Regions from separate parts of the Homo sapiens genome. Here region 2 is linked to region 1. Evidence: fine-mapped expression QTL. A gene starts in region 1. The other region holds a variant in brackets. All regions are shown on one strand. Distances are between the middles of the regions. Region 1 holds the start of GNA15 (G protein subunit alpha 15). Region 2 overlaps GNA15 (G protein subunit alpha 15).

Evidence for each region. PIP is the estimated chance that this variant, and not a neighbour inherited with it, causes the effect.
Region 2: its variant is fine-mapped to the expression of GNA15 in whole blood (INTERVAL, PIP above 0.99).

Annotation. Positions count from the first base shown.
Region 1 is chr19:3,130,903-3,142,136 of GRCh38, reverse strand. It overlaps GNA15 (G protein subunit alpha 15), which reads right to left and starts at 6,104. Exons shown (of 7, transcript NM_002068.4): 1 at 5,542-6,104. The coding sequence starts at 5,686. It overlaps GNA15-DT (GNA15 divergent transcript), which reads left to right. Exons shown (of 4, transcript NR_110670.1): 4 at 1-561. It also overlaps the pseudogene RPL35P10. RefSeq lists an enhancer at 91-591.
Region 2 is chr19:3,158,069-3,168,295 of GRCh38, reverse strand. GNA15 (G protein subunit alpha 15) reads right to left here. Exons shown (of 7, transcript NM_002068.4): 7 at 4,547-5,503. The coding sequence ends at 5,277. Among named protein-coding and RNA genes, the nearest start is that of GNA15-DT, 8.0 kb to the right of the region's middle. RefSeq lists enhancers at 4,025-4,885, 4,886-5,747, 5,551-5,845. The variant T/G (reference allele first, on the strand shown) is at 3,495.

The DNA of each region.
Region 1 (11,234 bases):
CCGGCAGATGCCAGGAAGGAACTGGGTTAACCGTGCCAAGCCCCAGTCATCACAAGGCAACTGGAGCCAGCTATGTGCACAGAGTCCAGCACCAGGCCCTCACAGGAAACGCAGCTGCTGGGGAAGTGGGGAGCCAGGCCAGGCAGCCGCAGGGGCAGGAGGCTCGGCCTCTCAGTCCCGCTCTGGCTCAAACTAGCTGCTGACCCCCAATCAATCCTGCTGCCTCCTTGGGCCTCATTTTCCCCATCTGGCACTGGGGTTCTGTGGTGTTTCTGTCCCCCAAGGCAGGCGAACAGGGCAGTCAGGAGCATGGACTTTGGAACCAGAATTCTAGGTGCGAGTCTCAGCTGTGTGACCTTGGGCAAGTCGCTCTGCCTCTCTGAGCCTCAGTTTATCCTTTGGGGGAAACTAGGAGTGCCTGCCTCAAAGTGCTAAGAACAGGCCGGGCACAATGGCTCACATCTCTAATCTCGTCACTTTGGGGAGGCCAAGGCAGATGGATCACCTGAGGTCAGGAGTTCGAGACCAGCCTGGCTAACATGGTGAAACCCCGTCTCTACTAAAAATACAAAAATTAGCTGGGCATGATGGTGCACACTTGTAGTCCCAGCTACTCAGGAAGCTGAGGCAAGAGGATTGCTTGAACCCAGGAGGCAAAGGTTGCCGTGAGCCGAGATCGCACCACTGCACTCCAACCGGGGTGATAGAGTAAGACTCTGTCTCAAAAATAAAAATAAAAAATAAAATGTTTAAAGTGCTAAGGACATAACTGGTCCCTTTCACAGCTTTATTTTCCTGTTTTTGTTGTTGTTCACTTTCTTTTCTTTTCTTTTTTTGTTTTTGTTTAGAGACTGGGTCTCGCAATGTTGTCCAGGCTGGTCTTGAACTCCTGGGCTCAAGCAATCCTCCTGCCTTAGCCTCCCGAGTAACTGGGACTACAGGTATGTGCCACCATACCCGGCTCACGGCTTCATTCTGACTCTCCCCCTTCCCCAATATGAGGGTTGCTTCATGTCAGGGACAGACCCACCCCCACCCTGGTCCTTTTTGCCATCTTCCTCAAAAGGATCAGCCACCTCCAGGTAAAAAAAAAACAGCTTTTGGATTCAATTCCTGTTTCCAAGAAGGGACAGAGGTCTGGAGGTTGCCCTCAGACCTGTCTCCAGGGATGAGGTGGTTTAAACCACAGTCCACAGTGCTACATCAGTGCCTGGGGACATGGATGTCATCCCCTGCCCTCCATCAGTAGAAGGGGCTTCCTGCTTTGAGGCTGGCTGAGTAGTGCCCAGAGTGGTATGTGGAAGGGACTTTCCCAGCTCCAGGAAGATATGATACAGTGTCTGGGGGAAGTTCTCCCCAAAAATGATTCATTCATTCATTCATTCATTCATTCAGCATTTCTTGAGCATCTACTATATGGCAGGCTCATTGTACACCTGTGCTAGATGCTGGAGACACAGGGATGAAGAAGACAGATGTGGTCCCTACCCTTTTGTTGCTTGCTGTATAGCTGGAGAGATAAACAATAAACAAGTGAACAAATAGTGAGGGCCAGGAAGAAAAATCAAACAGAGTAAGGGGAAGGAGAAGATAGGACTGTCTTTATAGCTAGGGTAGTCAGGGAAGACTTCTCTGAGGAGGCGACACTTGGGTTGAGACCTACATGGAGTGAAAGGGCCAGCCAGGCAAAGGTCAGGGATAAATGACCTTGAGGTATTCGAGGAAAGAGCACTAAAAGTGATAAACCCCTAGCTTGATAGATCAAGAAAAAAATGAGCAAAGGCAGAAATGATCGATACCAAGAGCAAAAGAGAGGACATCACTGCAGATCCTACAGACAGTAGCAGGAGAACAAGGGAACGTTATAAATGTTATGCCAATAAATTTGATAACACAGGCAAAATGGACAAATTATTTGAAAGACACAAATGATCAAAACCCACACAAGAAGAAGTAGATAGCCTAAGTAGCCCTATTTATTTAAAATAATAAGACATATCGATATGATACGTCATAATGTGACATAATATGACACATTAATATGTCAAATATAGATAGATAGATAGATAGATAGATAGATAGATAGATAGATTTTTTTTTTTTGAGATGGAGTTTCACTCTTATTGCCTAGGCTGGAGTTCAGTGGTGTGATCTTGGCTCACTGCAACCTCTGCCTCCAAGTTAGAGCAATTCTCCTGCCTCACCCTCCCAAGTAGCTGGGACTACAGGTGCGCACCACCACGCCTGGCTAATTTTTGTATTTTTAGTAGAGATGGGGTTTCACCACATTAGCCAGGATGGTCTCCATCTCCTGACCTCGTGATCCACCCTCCTCGGCCCCCCAAAGTGCTGTGATTGCAGGCGTGAGCCACCGCACCCAGCCCTGATTTTTTATATTTTTAGTAGAGACGGGGTTTCATCGTGTTAGCCAGGATGTTCTCAACCTCCTGACCTCATGATCTGCCCACCTCGGCCTCCCAAAGTGCTGGGATTACAGGCATGAGCCACTGCACCCGGCATTTTTTTTTTTTTTTTTTTGAGACAGAGTCAGCTTTGCTCTGTCACCCAGGCTGGAGTGCAGTGGCATGATCATAGCTCACTGCAGCCTCAACCTCCCAGGCTCAAGTGATCCTCTCACCTCAGCCTCCCAAGTAGTTGGAACTACAGTTGCGCACCACCATGCCTGGCTAATTATTTTATTTATTTATTTTTTTTAGAGACTGGGTCTTGCTAAGTTGCCCAGGCTGGTCTGAAACTCCTAAGCTCAAGCAATCCTCCCACCTAGGCCTCCCAAAGTGCTAAGATTACAGGAATGAACCACTATGCCCTGCTGAGATATTCTTTTATCTCGTTCAGTAAGAGGGATCAAGGCTAGAGTTGAAAGGGCCCTTGACTGGGTGCAGTGGCTCACGCCTGTAATCCCCACACTTTGGGAGGCCAAGGTGGTAGGATCACCTGAGGTCAGGGGTTCGAGACCAGCCTGGCCAACATGGTGAAACCCCATCTCTACTAAAAATACAAAAATTAGCCAGGTGTGGTAGTGCGCACCAGTAGTCCCAGCTGCTCAGGAGACTGAGGCAGGAGAATCACTTGAACCCAGGAGGCGGAGGTTGCAGTGAGCTGAGATCTCACCACTGCACTCCAACCTGGGGGACAGAGCAAGACTCAATCTAAAAAAAAAGAAAAAAAAAAAAAAAGAGGCTGGGCGCGGTGGCTCACGCCTGTAATCCCAACACTTCGGGAGGCCAAGGCGGGTTGATCACCAGGTCAGGAGTTCGAGACCAGCCTGGCCAACATGGTGGAACCCCATCTCTACTAAAAATACAAAAAAAAAAAAAATTAACTGGGCGTGGTGGCGCGTGCCTATAATCCCAGCTACTCAAGAGGCTGAGACAGGAGAATTGCTTGAACCCGGGAGGCGGAGGTTGCAGTGAGTTGAGATCGCACCACTGCACCCCAGCCTGGGTGACAGAGCAAGACTCCGTCTCAAAAAAATAAAAATAAAAATAAGAAAAGAAAAAAGAAAGAAAGGGCCCCCAGTGAAGGTGCAGTTCCTGGGGGTCCCCACCATCCCACTCGATGTTCTCTCTCTTTCCTCTCGGGCGGCCTCTTCCCACTGAACGAGGAAAGGACGATAGCAACCATCACGGGATGATCAAGCTCTTTGCCCGGGGCAGACAAACGCGAGTCCAGAAGACTTGAGACCTTCTCCAGCCCCCAACCCAGAGCTCGGGGATCCCAGAAGACCCTCCCAGGCTAGCATCCCGGGCTTAGGCCAACGGGGCCATAATCAGGGAAAGGTAATTGGGGAAACAAGCTACGGGAATGAGAAGACCCCGAGGTTTCAGAGATCAGAATTTTTTTTTTTTTGAGACGGAGTTTTGTTCTTGTTGCCCAGGCTGGGGTGCAATAGTGCAATCCTGGCTCACTGCAGCCTCCACCTCCTGGTTTCAAGCGATTCTCCTGCCTCAGCCTCCCCAGTAGCTGGGATTACAGGCACATGCCACCACACCCGGCTAATTTTTTTGTATTTTGAGTAGAGACGGGGTTTCGCCACGTTGACCAGGCTGATTTCGAACTCCTGGCCTCAAGTGATCTGCCCGCCTTGGCGTCCCAAAGTGCTGGGATTACAGGCATGATTTATTTATTTATTTTATTTATATTTATTTATTTATTGACAATGAGTCTTGCTCTGTCATCCAGGCTGGAGTGCAGTGGCCCGATCTCAGCTCACTGCAACCTCTGCCTCCTGGGTTCAAGCGATTCTCATGCCTCAGCCTCCCGAGTAGCTGGGATTATAGCTGTGTGCCACCATGCCCAGCTAATTTTTGGTTTTGTTTGTTTGTTTATTTGTTTGAGATGGCGTCTCACTCTGTCGCCAGTCTGGAGTGCAGTGGCATGATCTCAGCTCACTGCAGTCTCCACCTCCTGGTTTCATGCAATTCCCCTGCCTCAGCCTCCCGAGTAGCAGGGACTACAGGCACGCACCACCACATCTGGCTAATTTTTGGTATTTTGGTAGAGATGGGGTTTCACCGTGTTGGTCAGGCTGGTCTCGATCTCCCGACCTTGTGATCCACCCACCTCGGCCTCCCAAAGTGCTGGGATTACAGGCATGAGCCACCATGCCTGGCAAATTTTTGGTATTTTAGTAGAGACGGGGCTTCACCATGTTGGCCTGGCTGTGTCTTGAACTCCTGACCTCAAGTGATCCCACCCGCCTGGGCCTCCCAAAGTGCTGAAATCACAGGCTTGAGCCACTGCACCCAGCCAGAGTTCAGAATCTTGAACCGTTACTGACGTCGACTCCCCCATCTGAAGCCTCCGCATGGAAGCCATCACCCTGTTTTGTTTTCTCCTAGATAATTCTTGTTGCCAGAATTATTTTATCTGCTTATGAGTTTACAGACTAAATGTCTTGGCTCCTTCACAGGAAATGAGATCCAGGAAGACAGAAATATCTTCCCCTGTTTGGCTGCCTCGTTCCTGGGAGCTACCCAATAAATCTTAAATGAATGAATAATGAATGAATGAACCAATGAACCAATCAATCCATCCTTTCTAGCCCCCAAAGGAGCCCTAGACAAGCCCTCTCCAGCCATGGCAGGGAGGTAAAGGCGAGAGGGAGCGTCCTGGTGAAGGAGAGGCTGGAGCCGGCCCCTCCCTTACGGGTGGGCTGGCCAGAACGGGTTGCACACCTGAGCTCATCATTCCCTCGCCATGACACAGACAGGTAGGGCGTGCTGGGCCTGCCCGGCAGGGGCCCGGTAGAGCCACGTCTGCTATTGTATATGCCCCACACAGTGGACAGGCCTGGGCACCTGGCCGCTGGTCGCACGTTGGACAAGGAACTTGGCTTCTCTGAACCTCAGTCTTTCTCATCTGGAAAATGGGTTCCAGGCTCCCCATTCCCTGGGAGGAGGCGACGGCTCCACGATGCCAATGTCTGACCTAGCCTGATCCGCCTCCTTGCCCCGACACCCCTGCCGGCTGGCCACCGCCCACTGCCCACCACCCACCGCCCACCGACCCTGGACTCACCCAAAAGCAGCAGCTTCAGCTCCCCGCGGTCCTGCTTCTTCTGCTCCAAGAGGATCCTGTTGATCTCCTGGTCCACCCGGGCGGCGGCCTTCTCATCCTCCGTCAGGCACCAGGGGCAGCAGCGCCAGGTCAGCGAGCGGGCCATGGTGCGGTGGCCTCAGTCGGCACCGGGTGGCATCGCCCCCGGGCCCCTGCTGGCCAGGGCAACCCCCAGCCCAGCCGGCCCTGGAGAGGGCTCCGGGCAACCGGGTGCGCAGGGAGGCTGCCTTTTCCTTGGGGGTCACCCCCCAGGGACCTAGACTTCCTTGCCTGAAACACCCAGGAAGCCCGGCTCGGCGGTGGCAAGGCTTGAGTGCTGGGAACAGGGTGGGGACGGGAGGAGGTGGGGAGGCCAGGGCTCCCCGCCCACCTCCAGACCTGCTCAGACCCGGCCCGACAGGTTGACGGTGAAGGGTGCCAGGAGAGGGTGAGGTGGGGGCCCCAGGGAGGGCGGGGCGGTGGCGGGAAAACCCCCACCGCAGACTGGGTCCTGTGTGACCAGCAGGGCCCTTCTTCCTCCTTCTGGAGAAGGGGCGGATTCTCCTCAGGCTTCACCCGGAGCTGTCCCCCTCCTCGGAGCCAATCAGGAACCGTCAGACCCGTGCTACTGCTGATACATTATATATATATCATATATATATGTGTGTGTATATATATATATGTGTATATATATATATATATATATATATATATATATATATATATATATATATTTTTTTTTTTTTTTTTGAGACAGAGTTTCACTCTTATTGCCCAGGCTGGAGTGCAGTGGCAGGATCTTGACTCTGCAACATCTGCCTCCCAGGTTCAAGCAATTCTCCTGCCTCAGCCTCTCGAGTAGCTGGGATTACAGGCATCCACCACCACGCCGGGCTAACTTTGGATTTTTAGTAGAGAAAGGGTTCCACCACGTTGGCCAGGCTGGTCTCAAACTCCTGACCTCAGGTGATCCACCCGCCTCGGCCTCCCAAAGTGCTGGGATTGCAGGCATAAACCACCACGCTCGGCCCTTCTGATATATTTTTAAGAAACAGCTCAGGCCAGGTGTCATGGACTGTTTCCAGCGACTCTGCCCTGACCTCAGGTGATCCACCCTGCAGAGGTGGGCAGCTTGCCTGAGGTCAGGAGTTCGAAACCAGCCTGGCCAACATGGCGAAACCCTGTCTCTACTAAAGATACAAAAATTAGCCGGGTTTTGGCTCACATTAGCTGGTTTTACACTCACATCACCCTGTATAGTTACTACTGTCATCCCTGTTTGACTGATGAGGAGGTTGAGGCATAGAGCAGGGGAGTGACCGGTGGGGCTGGCACAAGGCAGAGCCGGGAGCCTATCCCTCACCTGCGGGGCCCCAGAGTCTAGACGCCTACCAGGCAGATTCCAGGCAGGGCCATCCCTTCATTGTGCGTGCATTCATGGAGCGCCAACTGTGTGCCAGGCACGGTAGCCAAGAGACACAGATCCCAGACCTCCTTACCTAAGGTTCTAGTTAAAGAACAGATAATAAAATAAATTTTAGGCTGGGCCTGGTGGCTCACGCATGTAATCCCTATACTTTGGGAGGCCAAGGCGGGCAGATCACAAAGTCAAGAAATCGAGACCAGCCTGGCCAACACGGCGAAACCCCGTCTCTACTAAAAATACAAAAATTAGCCGGGCGTGGTGGTGCACGCCTGTAGTCCCACCTACTTGGGAGGCTGAGGCAAGAGAATCGCTTGAACCCGGGAGGCAGAGGTGGCAGTGAGCTGAGATCGTGCCACTGCACTCCAGCCTGGCGACGAAGTGAGACTCCATCTCAAAAAAAATAAAAAATAAAAGAATAAAAAATTTGGCCAGGTGAGTGCGGGAGCTCACATCTGTAATCAAAGTACTTTGGGAGGCCGAGGCAGGAGGATCACTTGAAGTCAGGAGTTTGAGACCAGCCTGGCCAACATGGAGAAACTCCATCTCTACTAATACAAAAATTAGTTGGGCATGTTGGCACGCACCAGTAGTCCCAGCTACTTGGGAGGCTGAGGCAAGGGAATCACTTGAACCCCGAAGATGGAGGCTGCAGTGAGCCGAGATCATAACACTGCTCTCCAGCCTGGGCAACATAGTGAAACCCTGTCTCCAGAAACAAACAAAACAAAACTCTCCCTCTCTCTCTATGTATATATATACACACACACACATACATATATATACACATACATATATATACACAATATATAGACACACATACATATATGTATATACACATACATATATACACATACATATATATACACAATATATAGACACACATACATATATACACATACATATATACACACATAAAAGTATACATTTTAATATACATATATGTATATTATACATAAAAATATATATGTGTGTATATATATACACACACGTGTAAAATATATATATTTTTTAATACACCTGAGCCCGTTGGATGGTGAAAAATTCTGCCAGAAAAATTAAGCAGAGATGTTGTTGGGGAAGGTTCAAGGTCATTGCTCTAAATGGATCAACAAAGGTCGCACAGACAAGTGATATTCAGGATCAGAAGTCAGACAGGCAGATCGGGTGTAAGAGGGACTTTGGGAGTGGACCTCACTGGTCAAGGAGATCTTCCCAATGAGTGCCATGAGGCCGCCCTGACCTGATCCCTCTGGGACTTCAGGGCCCTAGGGGTGGGCTGGTGGCTGGCAGCTTGGTAGAAACGTTGCTGCTTCCTAGGTACTCAGAGCCAGAGTGTTTGGGTGAAGATTCCCCACCCCCATTGACAGGCTGTAGAAAATTCTAGAAAGTTCTGGATCAAAACTCTCCTCCCCAAGAGATACACGTAATTCTTGTACTTCGGGGGCCTCTGGTCCCTTTACAGATAGGGCAAGGCACAGAGAGGGCGAATTACGTGCCCAGGGCCACACAGCCATTGGCAGCCACCGTCCCCACCTCCTCCCAGACACCAGGGCTCGGTGACAGCCGTTGACGCAGCTTCACCAGCTCAGCACAAACGTGTGGTTTTCTCCACTGTTGATTCATAACGAATGACAGATGGGAAGTACGATAGGGGCCCCCATCTGGTCACTGGGGCTGGCAGGTGCCATCTGCCCACCCAGCCACCCACCTTCCCGCCCCCAACCGGATAGCAGCAACGAGGGGCAGTCCCACCCAGGACAGGCAAAGAAACGCAGAAATAGGTCATGGCCGTGCAGATCTTCCAGGATGGTTGAAACAGAAATGACCAGCAAAACTGGGAGACGAGGCTGAGCCACAGGCCCCACAGGGTGAGCCCAGGGGGCCACTCTCCTAGCATCTCCCTGCGGCATTTTTGGACAGGATACCAGCACCCGCCATCTTCACAGCCTGGACCAGGGTGGCAGACCCTCTGTGGCTCCCGCTGGCTTCAGAATTAATGAGCCGGCTCCCTGGATCCAGGGCCCAGGCTCTGCCCACTTCTCCAGCTGCTGAACAAACCTCCCTTGCGGTTCCCTAAACGGGCTGAGCTACTTCCTTGCCACATGCTGAGCATTTGTCGTGTATTATTAGCTCAGCTGGGAACACCAGGGTGAGCTTGTGTGTGTAGAAAATATTTCTTTCAGAAAACACATAAAACCTGAATGTATTACCTAATAAATTGTTGTGAAGCCGGTATCCACAGAATCCACTGAGGCCAAGACTAAGGACATTTTCAGGCCGGGCGCGGTGTCTCACGCCTGTCATCCCAGCACTTTGGGAGGCCAAGGTGGGCAGATCACCTGAGGTCAGGAGTTCAAGACCAGCCTGGACAACATGGTGAAACCCCGTCTCTACTAAAAATAGAAAAGTTAGCCAGGTGTGATGGTGCACACCTGTAATCCCAGCTACTCGGGAGGCCGGGGGAGGAGTATTGCTTGAGCCTGGGAGGTGGAGGTTGCAGTGAGCTGAGATCGTGCCACTGCACTCCAGCCTGGGTGACAAGCAAGACTCTGTCTCAAAAAAAAAAAAAAAAAGACCTTAGCCCCACAAAGACCCCTAGTGTTTTCCTCATAGTAATCTCTACCTTCCCAGCAGTAACTATCATTCTGACTTCTGTGGTATTAATATTTATTTCCGGGTTTGGGGGGTATTTTTTGCTAATAAGATCTATTTCAGCTGGGCATGTTGGCTCATGCCTATAATCTCAGCACTTTGGGAGGCTGAAGTGGGAGGATTGCTTGACCCCAGGAGTTCAAGACCAGCCTGGGCAACATAGTGAGACTCTATCTCTTTTTTTCTTTTTTCTTTCTTTCTTTCTTTTTTTTTTTTTTTTTTTTTTTTGAGACGGTGTTTTGTTATTGTTGCCCAGGCTGGAGTGCAATGGCTCGGTCTCAGCTCACTGCAACCTCCACCTTCCCAGTGAGACCCCATTTCTAAAAAATAAAATAAAATAAATTAGCCGGGGGTGGTGGCTCATGCCTGTGGTCCCAGGTACTCCAGAGGCTAAGGTGGGAGGATTGCTTAGGCCAGAGAGGTTGAGGCTGCAGTGAGCTATGATTGACCCACTGCACTCCAGCCTGGGTTGACAGAGCAAGGGTCTGTCCCCCCCAAAAAAAGATCTTGTTTTTAATTGTCTAAATTTATGTAGCATTGTATTTACTTTCTTTGGTGTATGGTTCTATGAGTTTATTTATTTATTTATTTATTTATTTATTTATTGAGACGGAGTCTGTCTCTGTCACCCAGGCTGGAGTGCAGTGGCACGATCTCGGCTCACTGCAAGCTGAGCCTCCCGGGTTCACGCCATTCTGCTGCCTCAGCCTCCCGAATAGCTGGGACTACAGGTGCCCACCACCACGCCGGGCTAATTTTTTTTGTATTTTAGTAGAGACGGGGTTTCACCATGTTGTCCAGACTGGTCTCGATCTCCTGACGTCGTGATCCGCCCGCCTCGGCCTCCCAAAGTGCTGGGATTACAGGCGTGAGCCACCGCGCCCGGCCTGGTTTCTATGAGTTTTAACAGCTGTAGAGATTCGTGTAAATTACTGCTATAAACAGGATACAGAATGTAGTTCCATCACCGGAACAACTCCCTCCTGACCGTGGATTGGCTCTTTGTGGCTGTGTTTTTTGTTTGTTTGTTTGTTTTGGTGTTTTTTTTTTTGTTTTTTTTTTTCTCAGCCAGCTGTGCTTTATTGACAACGCGCCACTCGGGCCTTGACCGCGCACTTCCGCACTGGGGACAGCTGCTCGCTCTGCTGCTGCTTCTTGATCGTCAGGTTCTCCTCGTGCTTGCTGAGCGGGCGGCGCACGGCGCGTGTCTTCTTAGGCCGCAGGTGCAGGTGCTTGTACTTCTTGCCCTTGTAGAATTTCCCGAGGTTTTCTTTCTGAGTCTGGTTAATAACCGTGAGAACACGGGCAATGGATTTGCGGACGACTCGGATCTTTTTTTTTTTTTTTTTTTTTTTTTTTTTTTGAGACAGAGTCTCCCTCTGTCGCCCAGGCAGAAGCGCAATGGCGAGATCTCGGCTCTCTGCAAGCTCCGCCTCCCGGGTTCACCCCATCCTCCTGCCTCAGCCTCCCGAGTGAGTAGCTGGGATTACAGCCGCCCGCCACCACGCCCGGCTAATTTTTTTGTATTTTTAGTAGAGACGGGGTTTCGCTGTGTTAGCCAGGATGGTATCGATCTCCTGACCTCGTGATCCGCCCG
Region 2 (10,227 bases), 27 kb before region 1:
CTACAGCCCCTTGCTGAAAGGATCCAGGGAACCTGGGAGGAAGGGTTGATTCCAAGAGTAGGGCAGGAGATGAGCCTGGAACATCTCAGTGTGCCAGAGAGGGAGGGCGTGATCACAGAGGGAGGAGGACCTGGCAAAGAACACAGGAGCCAGCTCGGAGGGGCTGCTGCCGGCCAACCCTGGGTTAGAAATGGATGGATGACCTCAGCACATGACCCAGCAATTCTGTCGCTAGGGTCACACTCAAGAGGAATGCAAGCATGTCCACTCGAAAACTCACACCTGGCCGGACACAGGGGCTTATGCCTGGAATCCCCGGGGAGGCTGAGGCAGGAGGAACCCTTCAGCCCAGGAGTTGGAGGCAGCAGTGAGCTGAGGTTGCACCACTGCACACCAGCCTGGGTGACGGAGCAAGACCTTGTCTTTAAGGGGAGTAAAAAACAAACAAAACAAAACAAAAAGGCCAAATAGTAAATATTTTTGGCTTTTGGGGCCAGACAGTATCAGTGGCAGTTACTCAATTCCATGGATGCAGGAACAGCCTGCGTAGACACAGGTACATGAATGGACATGACCGTGTTTCAATAAAACTTTACAAAAGCAATTGAAGTAGTATTTGGCCTGTGGGTAGCAGTTTGCCGGCTCCTGACCTGGATGAAAAATACAGGGGAATACATTGTAATGGTTTTGTAACTTCTGTAGGTTTCAAATATTTTTGCACTAAAAATAAGCGAACAAAAGATGTGTTTCCGCAAAGACTTGGAACCAACCCAAATGTCCATCAATGATAGACTGGATTAAGAAAATGTGGCACAGGCCGGGCGTGATGGCTCACGCCTGTAATCCCAGCACTTTGGGAGGCTGAGGCGGGCAGATCACAAGGTCAGGAGATCGAGACCATCCTGGCTGACACGGTGAAACCCCGTCTCTACTAAAAATACAAAAAATTAGCCGGGCTTGCTGGTGGGCGCCTGTAATCCCAGCTACTCAGGAGGCTGAGGCAGGAGAATGGCATGAATCCGGGAGGCGGAGCTTGCAGTGAGCCCAGATTGCACCACTGCACTCCAGCCTGGGTGACAGAGTGAGACTCCGTCTCAAAAAAAAAGAAAAAGAAAATATGGCACATATACACCACAGAATACTATGCAGCCATAAAAAAGGATGAGTTCATGTCCTTTGTAGTGACATGGATGAAGCTGGAAACCATCATTCTGAGCAAACCATCACAAGGACAGCAAACCAAACACCGCATGTTCTCACTCATAGGTGGGAACTGAACAATGAGAACACGTGGACACAGGGTGGGGAACATCACACACCGGGGCCTGTCGTGGGGTGAGGGGAGGGGGGAGGGATAGCATTAGGAGAAATACCTAATGTAAATGACGAGTTAATGGGTGCAGTAAACCAACACAGCACATGTATACCTATGTAATAAACCAGCACAGTTGTGCACATGTACCCTAGAACTTAAAGTATAATAATAAAAAAAAAGACAAGATGTGTTTCCTCACTTGGTGCTCAGATTGTGGTCTCTAAATATCATCTCCCATTCAAAGGAAAGAGGGCTCCTTGGAGAAACGATCCAGTGCAGATCTGAAGCTGACAAAGTAAAGGATGAGTTAAAAGCATCTCGCTGTGCCCAGTCAAAAAACTCTTAAGACCCACTGGGTCATGGCTGGGCACAGTGGCTCACGCCTGTAATCCCAGCACTTTGGGAGGTCGAGGCGGGAGGATCACCTGAGGTCAGGAGTTCGATACCAGCCTGGCCAACATGGCAAAACTCCGTCTCTACTAAAAATATAAAAATTACCTAGGTGTGGTAGCGCATGCCTGTAATCTCAGCTACTCAGGAGGCTGAGGCAAGAGAATCGCTTGAACCCAGGAGGTGCAGGTTGCAGTGAGCTGAGATCACACCACTGCACTCCAGCCTGGGTGACAAGAGTAAAACTCTGTCTCAAAAAAAAAAAAAAAAAAGAGGAGGCTGGGCGCGGTGGCTGACGCCTGTAATTCCAGCACTCTGGGAGGCCAAGGCGGTTGGATCACGAGTTCAGGAGATCGCGACCATCCTGGCTAATACAGTGAAACCCCGTCTCTACTAAAAAATACAAAAAATTACCCGGGCGTGGTGGCGGGTACTTGTAGTCCCAGCTACTCAGGAGGCTGAGGCAGGAGAATGGCATGAACCCGGGAGGCAGAGCTTGTAGTGAGCCGAGATCGCATCACTGCACTCCAGCCTGGGTGACAGAGCAAGACTCCGTCTCAAAAAAAAAAAAAGAGGAAAGAGACTTAAGAGACACAGCACCCAAGCGCCACGCACGGGCTTTGTTTGGGTCCTGACTCCGACCAACCAATGGTGAAAAGACATCCGCAACGTATGATCGCCAGGGATGAGCCACTTTGTCATGATGAACCCAGTCAGGTGATGCCCTGAGTGGCTCTGACATCCCTTTCTGTCACCAGCAAACCTCACACCAACCCAACCTGAGGAACGGCTCAAGAAACAACCAAGCAAAACTCCTCCGACGTGTCACAAAGGAAACTGAGGCACTGCCCCAGAATGAGGAGAGGGAGGCAGCTCATGGCGATGTGGGATCCGGGATTGGATCCTGGTCCAGGAAAGGAGGACGGGAGCGAGAACCCGCCACATTCTAGTAAGGTCTACACACAGGTTCGTTCATAGGACGCTCGCTGATGTGAATTTCCTGGGTTGTACTAGGGTTACGTAAGAGGTAAGAGGAAGCTGGGTGGAGGGCATTTGGGAACTGTGTACAACTTCTGCAACTTTTCTGTGAGTCTAAAATTCTTACAAAACAACAACAAGAGGCAGAGCGCGGTGGCTCACACCTGTAATCCCAGCACTTCGGGAGGCCGAGGCGGGCGGATCACAAGGTCAGGAGATTGAGACCATCCTGGCTAACACGGTGAAAGCCCGTCTCTACTAAAAATACAAAAAATTAGCCAGGCGTGGTGGCGGGCGCCTGTAATCCCAGCTACTCGGGAGGCTGAGGCAGGAGAATGGTGTGAACCTGGGAGGCGGAGCTTGCAGTGAGCCGAGATCACACCACTGCACTTCCAGCCTGGGTGACAGAGTGAGACTCCGTCTCAAAAAAAAAACAGAAAGATAGGATGTGGTGAGAAGGGCTGTCACCACTGAGGTCTTCCTCCCTGAAACCCATCACCCCAGTCTGACCAGCAGCAAAATGTCAGACCAAACTCAGTGGAGAGGGTTTCTATAACATACTTTTATATTTATTTATTTATTTATGTATTTATTTATTTATTATTTGAGACAAGGTCTCACTCTGTCGCTCAGGCTAGAGTGCAGTGGCAGGATCTTGGCTCACCGCAACCTCCGCCTCCCGGGTTCAAGCAACTCTCATGCTTCAGCCTCCCAATTAGCTGGGATTGCAAGCATGCACCACCACGCCCGGCTCCTTTTTGTATTACAAAATACCTTTTATAGGTTCAAATGTGGCTCCCCTACAAAGATA[T/G]GATGAAGTCATAACCCCCGGTATCTGTGAATGGGACCTTATTTAGAAATACGGTCTTTGCCGATGTAATCAAGTTAAGATGGGGATGACAGGCTGGACCCTGATCCAGTGTGACTAGTGTTTTTATAAGAAGAAAAATTAGGCCAGGTGTGGTGGCTCATGCCTGTAATCCCAGCACTTTGGGAGGTCGAGGGAGGCGGATCACTTGAGGTCAGGAGTTTGAGACCAGTTTGGCCAACATGGTGAAACCCTGTCTCTACTAAAAATACAAAAATATGGCCAGGTGTGATGGCACACAACTGTAGTCCAAGCTACTCAGGAGGCTGAGGCAGGAGAATCACTTGAACCTGGGAGGTGGAGGTTGCAGTGAGACGAGATTGCGCCACTGCACTCCAGCCTGGGCCACAGAGCGGGACTCCATCAAAAAAAAAAAAAGTAGCCAGGTGTGGTGGCGGGTGCCTGTAATCTCAGCTACTGCAGAGGCTGAGGCATGAGAATCACTTGAACCCAGGAGGCAGAGGCTGCAGTGAACCGAGATCGCACCACTGCACTCCAGCCTGGGCAACCAAGTGAGATTGTCTCAAAAAACAAACAAATAAAAAACCACAAATGTGTTCAACGTAGGAACAGGCTCCTGCCTCTGTCAATTCCAGGTGTGTGAGCTTAGTCAAATTACTCCACTTCTCTGCGCCCCGGTTTCCTCACCTGTAAAGTGGGGTGCTACGGCTTGCACCCCAGAACACTGCCCTGAGGATAGTAAGAGGCCTTCTCAAAGCTGGGTGGGGGCTGCTACTGGAATTTCAGGTCAGTAGCCACGGAGGAGTCTGCTTCAATGTCCCCCCCAGCCTGGGAGGGAGGTTGGACTCCACGTCCCGGCTTGCGGGACTCACAGCCTCCACAGTTCTGGGTACCATGGCCAGGACAGGTGGGTAGACAAGAAGTATAACTTTTTTCCTTCCTACTCCACGTTGCTCCCCGCACTGTAAGCACTGCCCCCGGGACACGTAAGCCGAGAAAGGAATGCAGAGGGGATAAACAGGACGCTGGCGACGCAGCCTCTAAGAAATCTTTAATTTCAGCCCGCACGGAGCCCTGCAGAAGGTGAGGGAATAAATACAAAAGGTTAAGATGCAGCATGCCCAGCCCCCAGCCTGCAAGGGATGGGGGGATGCTTGTGGGCCGCGATTTCTCTCGTCCGCAAACCGGGGCAGGACACGCTGTGAGCCACCGAGCTCTGAAAGTGACAGTGTTTTCCAGCGGTCTGTTACCCCTTGCAAAGGGAAGTCCCTGCACCCCTAGTCCACAGGTTCCTGGAAGGCGTTCCTTCTCCTGTCCACTAGAGTGCGCCAGAGTCCACGCCCGAAGGCGCCTGAAGGCTCTACTAGCCCCATCCCAGGGTGTGCGTCACCCACAGAGGGTCCCAGAACCCTGCCCAGGAGGTGACACGCCCGGAGATGGGGCTCCTGAGAGATGCCCACCCACCCAAGTCCTCAATCCCCTGATTTCTTCACCTTTTCATCCACCCTGGCATCCCAAATGGCCGTTTTGCTCCTTCCCTTTCAAAGGAGGGAAACTGAGTCAAGCAAGGGCAGGAGTACCCTGGGGGGCGGCTGTCCTGGTGAGAGGCAGAGAAGAGAGCGGCCAGCAGCGGGCCGTCCGTCCCCCGACTCCCTTGCGTGTGGGCCGAGGCTGGAGAGATAGACCAGGGACACTAGGGGTCCCTGCAGCCACTCCCACCTCCCACCCGCCCGCCGGTGCCGCCTGCCCCAGGTGGGGCCTGGGTCACAGCAGGTTGATCTCGTCCAGGTAGCGGGCGAGCACCGAGTCCCGCACGTCCTTGAAGACCTTGCGGATGTTCTGTGTGTCTGTGGCACATGTGTAGTGGCTGAAGAGGCGTCGGGATCGTGCGCCCTTCTTGCTGCCCTCGGGGCCGTCCACGCACCCGGTGTACATCCTCGTGTACATGTCCAGGATGAACCTCTTGGCTGCCTCAGCATCCTGCTTAGGGCCTGGGGAAACAGTGTGGGAAGGGGGTGAGGACCCTCCCTCTTTGGACCCAGGGGGCCTCTGGAGACCCTCTTCCCTGTAACCAGCACTGAAGGGACCCAGGGATCGCGCCTGTCATTTTTCTGTGCGTTGACTCCATCTTTTGTAGTCATAGCTGGTCACACGACTCCGGCCCAGCCAATGGGAACACAGGAGATTGTCTCACACGAGTCATGTGACCTGAAATGGACCAATGAGACCCAGCTCTGGGACTTCGGGCAGAACTGTGTTAAAGAGAGACACTCTCTTGGCCTCGCTTACAGCCAGTGCAGTTGGAAGACTGGAATCGCATAGACAAATATCCCAGGACTGTGAAGATGGCGGCATCAAGGCCAAACGAGGGGAAGAGAGTCCTCTTTTTTTTTTTCTTGAGATGGGGCCTCGCTCTGTCGCCCAGGCTGGAGTGCAATGGTGCAATCTTGGCAGTAGCTGGGATTACAGGCGCCTGCCACCATGCCCAGGTAATTTTTGTATTTTTAGTAGAGATGGGGTTTTGCCATGTTGGCCAGGCTGGTCTCGAACTCCTGACCTCAAATGATCAGCCCGCCTTGACCCCCCCAAAGCGCTGGGATTACAGGCGTGAGCCACTGTGCCCAGCCCTGCATAGGGTTTTAACATGAAGATTAAAGAAGCTTTGTAGAGTGCTTCCACCAGTGCGGTAGATGTGTTAGCTGCTGTTATCAATTTTATTATTATTATCATTATTATTATTATTATTATTTTGAGACAGAGTCTCACTCTGTCACCCAGGTTGGAGTGAAGTGGCATGATCTCAGCTCACTGCAACCTCCACCTCCTGGGTTCAAGCGATTCTCCTGCCTCAGCCTCCCGAGTAACTGGGATGACAGGCCCCCGCCACCACACCCAGCTAATTTTTGTATTTTTAACAGAGATGGGGCTTTGCCATGTTGGCCAGGCTGGTCTCAAACTCCTGACCTAAAGCGATCTGCGCGCCTCAGCCTCCCAAAGTGTGGTTTCTTATTATTATCACAAATATTATTTAGCACAGTGGAGGGTAGGGCTGGGAGTCAGCAAAGAGTGCACCAGTCACTTGTGCTGGGAGACAAGGATGAGTCATGGGTGGTTCCCTTTGACCTGAATGAAAAAAATATCTACCTTATCCTGTTCCCAAATTCTCTAAACTATGAGCTGATTCCCAGGGCTGCTTGGCAAGGAAGAGGGGCTATCCAGGCCACCATCCTGGAACAACTTGACGTCTATCTCCCAGACCCTGAATCTTGTGGGTATAATTGGCTAAAATTGGCCTCATGGGCTCTGAGACATGACAAGACCAGGGATCAAAACCTGGTGACTTCACCAAAGTTTATGTTTACTGATTGTGGACCTGGTGTCAAGCATGTACTAAGGACTCATCTACTATGGTTGCTTGTATATTGAGGTGAACAGTGTCCCCCAAAATTCATGTCCACCTGGAACTTCAGAATATGACTTTTAGAAATCGGATATTTGCAGATGTAATTAGTTAAGTTAAATTAGGTCATGGCCAGGCATGAGGGCTCACGCCTGTAATCCTAGCACTTTGGAAGGCCAAGGCAGGTGGATGACAGATGTGTGGTTGGGCCCAGGAGTTCCAGATCAGCCTGGGCAACATGGCGAAACCCTGTCTCTACAGAAATATACAAAAATTACCCAGGTGTGGTGGTGTGCGCCTGTAGTCCCAGCAACTCAAGAGGCTGAGGTGGGAGGATCACCTGTGCCCAGGAGGTTGAGGCTGCAGTGAACTGTGATCACACCACTGGACTCTAGCCTGGGCAACAGAGCAAGACCTTGTCTCAAAAAAAAAAAAAAAAAAAAAAAGTGGTCATACCAAAGTATGGGCCCTAAATCCAATGACTGGTGGCCTTATAACAACAGGAGAGGACACATAAAGGCATGGTGAGAAGACAGCCATGTGAACATGGAGGCAGAGATTGCAGTGATATGTCTACAAGCTAAGGATTGTAGGCCACCACCAGAAGCTGAGAGAGAAGCATGGAATGGATTTTCCCTTAGAGCCTCCAAAAGGAACCAACCTTGCCAATACCTTAACTTTGGACTTCTGTTGTTTCCTGTTGTTTTAAGCCACCCAGTTTGTGGTACTTTGTTACGGCATCCCCAGGACATGAAGGCAAGTTATCTCCAAGATGGCTGCCGTCACTTCCTTCCCTCCCTGTATGCATGTGTCATGCTGCCTTCAAGAGATGGAGTCTCTTTCTTTTGAATCCGGGCTGATATGAGTGATGTGCTTGACAAATAGAATGTGGCAGAGTAACGTCTGACATTTCTGAGGCTATCATGAGAAGCAGCTTCCACCTGGGCTGAAGTCTGTCTACCCTGAGGCAGCCATATTGTGAGTAAGCTCAAACCATGTGAAGAGGCTGTGGATCATGAGGCCCCAGATGGAGACAGAGAGAACAGGGGAGGTGGAAAAGGAGAGACAGACTAGGAGAAAGGGGAGGAGAGAGAGATGAGATGGGAGAGGGAGGCAGGGAGAGACACAGAGAGAGAGGCCAAGAGTGCCAAGAGCACCAAGGCACCAGACATATGGGGGAAGAAGCCATCTTGGAAGTTTATCTCCAATCCCATAGAGCCCAGCTGATGTCACATGGATCAGAGATGAACTTACCCAGCTCAACCTTTCCCAAATTCCTGACCCACAAAATCATAAGCAAAGGAAAATGACCAGTTTAAGTCACTAAGTTTGGGGATGGTTTGTTACTCGGCAGTAGCTAAGCAGGACACCCGCCACCACACTTTATCCTCACAGTGGTGTTCTGGGGAAAGTGCTAGTGAATATGTACCTTCCCCACGTTGGTCCCTGGATTAACCACAACTCTGCCTCCCCTTTGTAAAATATACTAAGTGGTGCCCAACACTAGATGGTGTTTCTCTGTAGTTGCCCTGTGGCCCTTTCACCCTCTGGATGGACTGAGAGTTTGTTCCCAAACCTGTTTTTGCCCATTGTACGTGTCTTGATTCATATGTAATTAAAAGAAACGTTATGCAAATCTGTAGCTACAAGTGCCGCATGAAAGAAGGTCATTGTATTACAAAACTAAGCTGTGTGCTTTGGAAACATTGTTCAAAGCTCTGCTTTAAAAATTAAAGAGAAAGGCCAGGTGTGGTGGCTCACGCCTGTAATCCCAGCACTTTGAGGCCGAGGCGGGTGGATCACCTGAGGTCGGGAGTTCAAGTCCAGCCTGACCAACATGGAGAAACCCCGTCTCTACTAAAAACACAAAATTAGCCGGGGTGGTGGCTCATGCCTGCAATCCCAGCTACTCGGGAGGCTGAGGCAGGAGAATCCCTTGAACCCGGGAGGCGGAGGTTGCGGTGAGCCGAGATTGTGCCATTGCACTCCAGCCTGGGCAAAAAGAGCAAAACTCCATCTCAAAAAAAAAAAAAAAAAGAAAAGAAATTAAAGAAAAAATAGACTGGGCACGATGGCTCACGCCTGTAATCCCAGCACTTTGGGAGGCCGAGACAGGTGGATCATGAGGTCAGGAGATTGAGACCAACCTGGGTAACATGATGAAACCCCATCTCGACCAAAAATACAAAAAACTAGCCAGACGTTCTGGCGGGCACCTGTAATCCCAGCTACTCGGGAGGCTGAGGCAGCAGAATGGTGTGAACCCAGGAGGCAGAGCTTGCAGTGAGCTGAGATTGCGCCACTGCACTCCAGCCTGGGCAGCAGAGCGAGACTCCGTCTCAAAAAACAAACAAAAAAAAATTAAAGAAAAAATGGATTAAAGAAAAAGAAATTGCTATCCAATTAGGGATAGATGAGATCACTATGAAAGATTAGAAAAAGAAACGTTATGGCCAGATGCGGTGGCTCACGCCCGTAATCCCAGCACTTTGGGAGGCTGAGGTAGGTGGATCACTTGAGGTCAGTTCGAGACCAGCCTGACCAACATGGTGAAACCCCATCTCTACTAAAAATAGGACAGGAAACTACTAAAAATTAGCCAGGCTTGGTGGCACGTGCCTGTAATCACAGCTACTTGGGAGGCTAAGGCAGGAGAATCACTTGAACCGGGGAGTTGGAGGTTGCCATGAGCCAAGATCGCACCACTGTACTCCAGCCTGGGTGACAGAGTGAGACTCTGTCTCAAAAAGAAAAAATAGAAGAAAGAAAGAAAAGAAAAAGAATCATTCTTAAAACCTAGGCAGATTCTGGAAATAGTAGACAATCTTTCCAGAAGTGCTTTACAACAGTGACCTCTACATAGCAAACCCATGCTTGAAGGATCTTGGCTCAAACCCCAAATGTTGGCCAACAAGCATAAAATAAAATGTTTGGCCGGGCATGGTGGCTCCTGTCTATAATCCTAGCACTTTGGGAGGCTGAGGCGGGTGGATCAGGAGGTCAAGTGATCGAGACTATCCTGGTCAACATGGTGAAATCCCGTCTTTTCGTACTAAAAACACAAAAATTAGCTGGGCGTGGTGGCGCGCACCTGTAGTTCCAGCTACTAGGGAGGCTGAGGTAGGAGAATCGCTTGAACTCTGGAGGGAAAGGTTGCAGTGAGCCGAGATCACGCCACTGCACTCCAGCCTGGTGACAGAGCAAGACTCTGTCTCAAAAATAAATAAATAAATAAAATGTTTAAGGTGTACGTGATATGCTACGTGTTTTTAGAATTCCTCACTTTACTCAGTTCCAAGGGCCTCTGCTATTTTA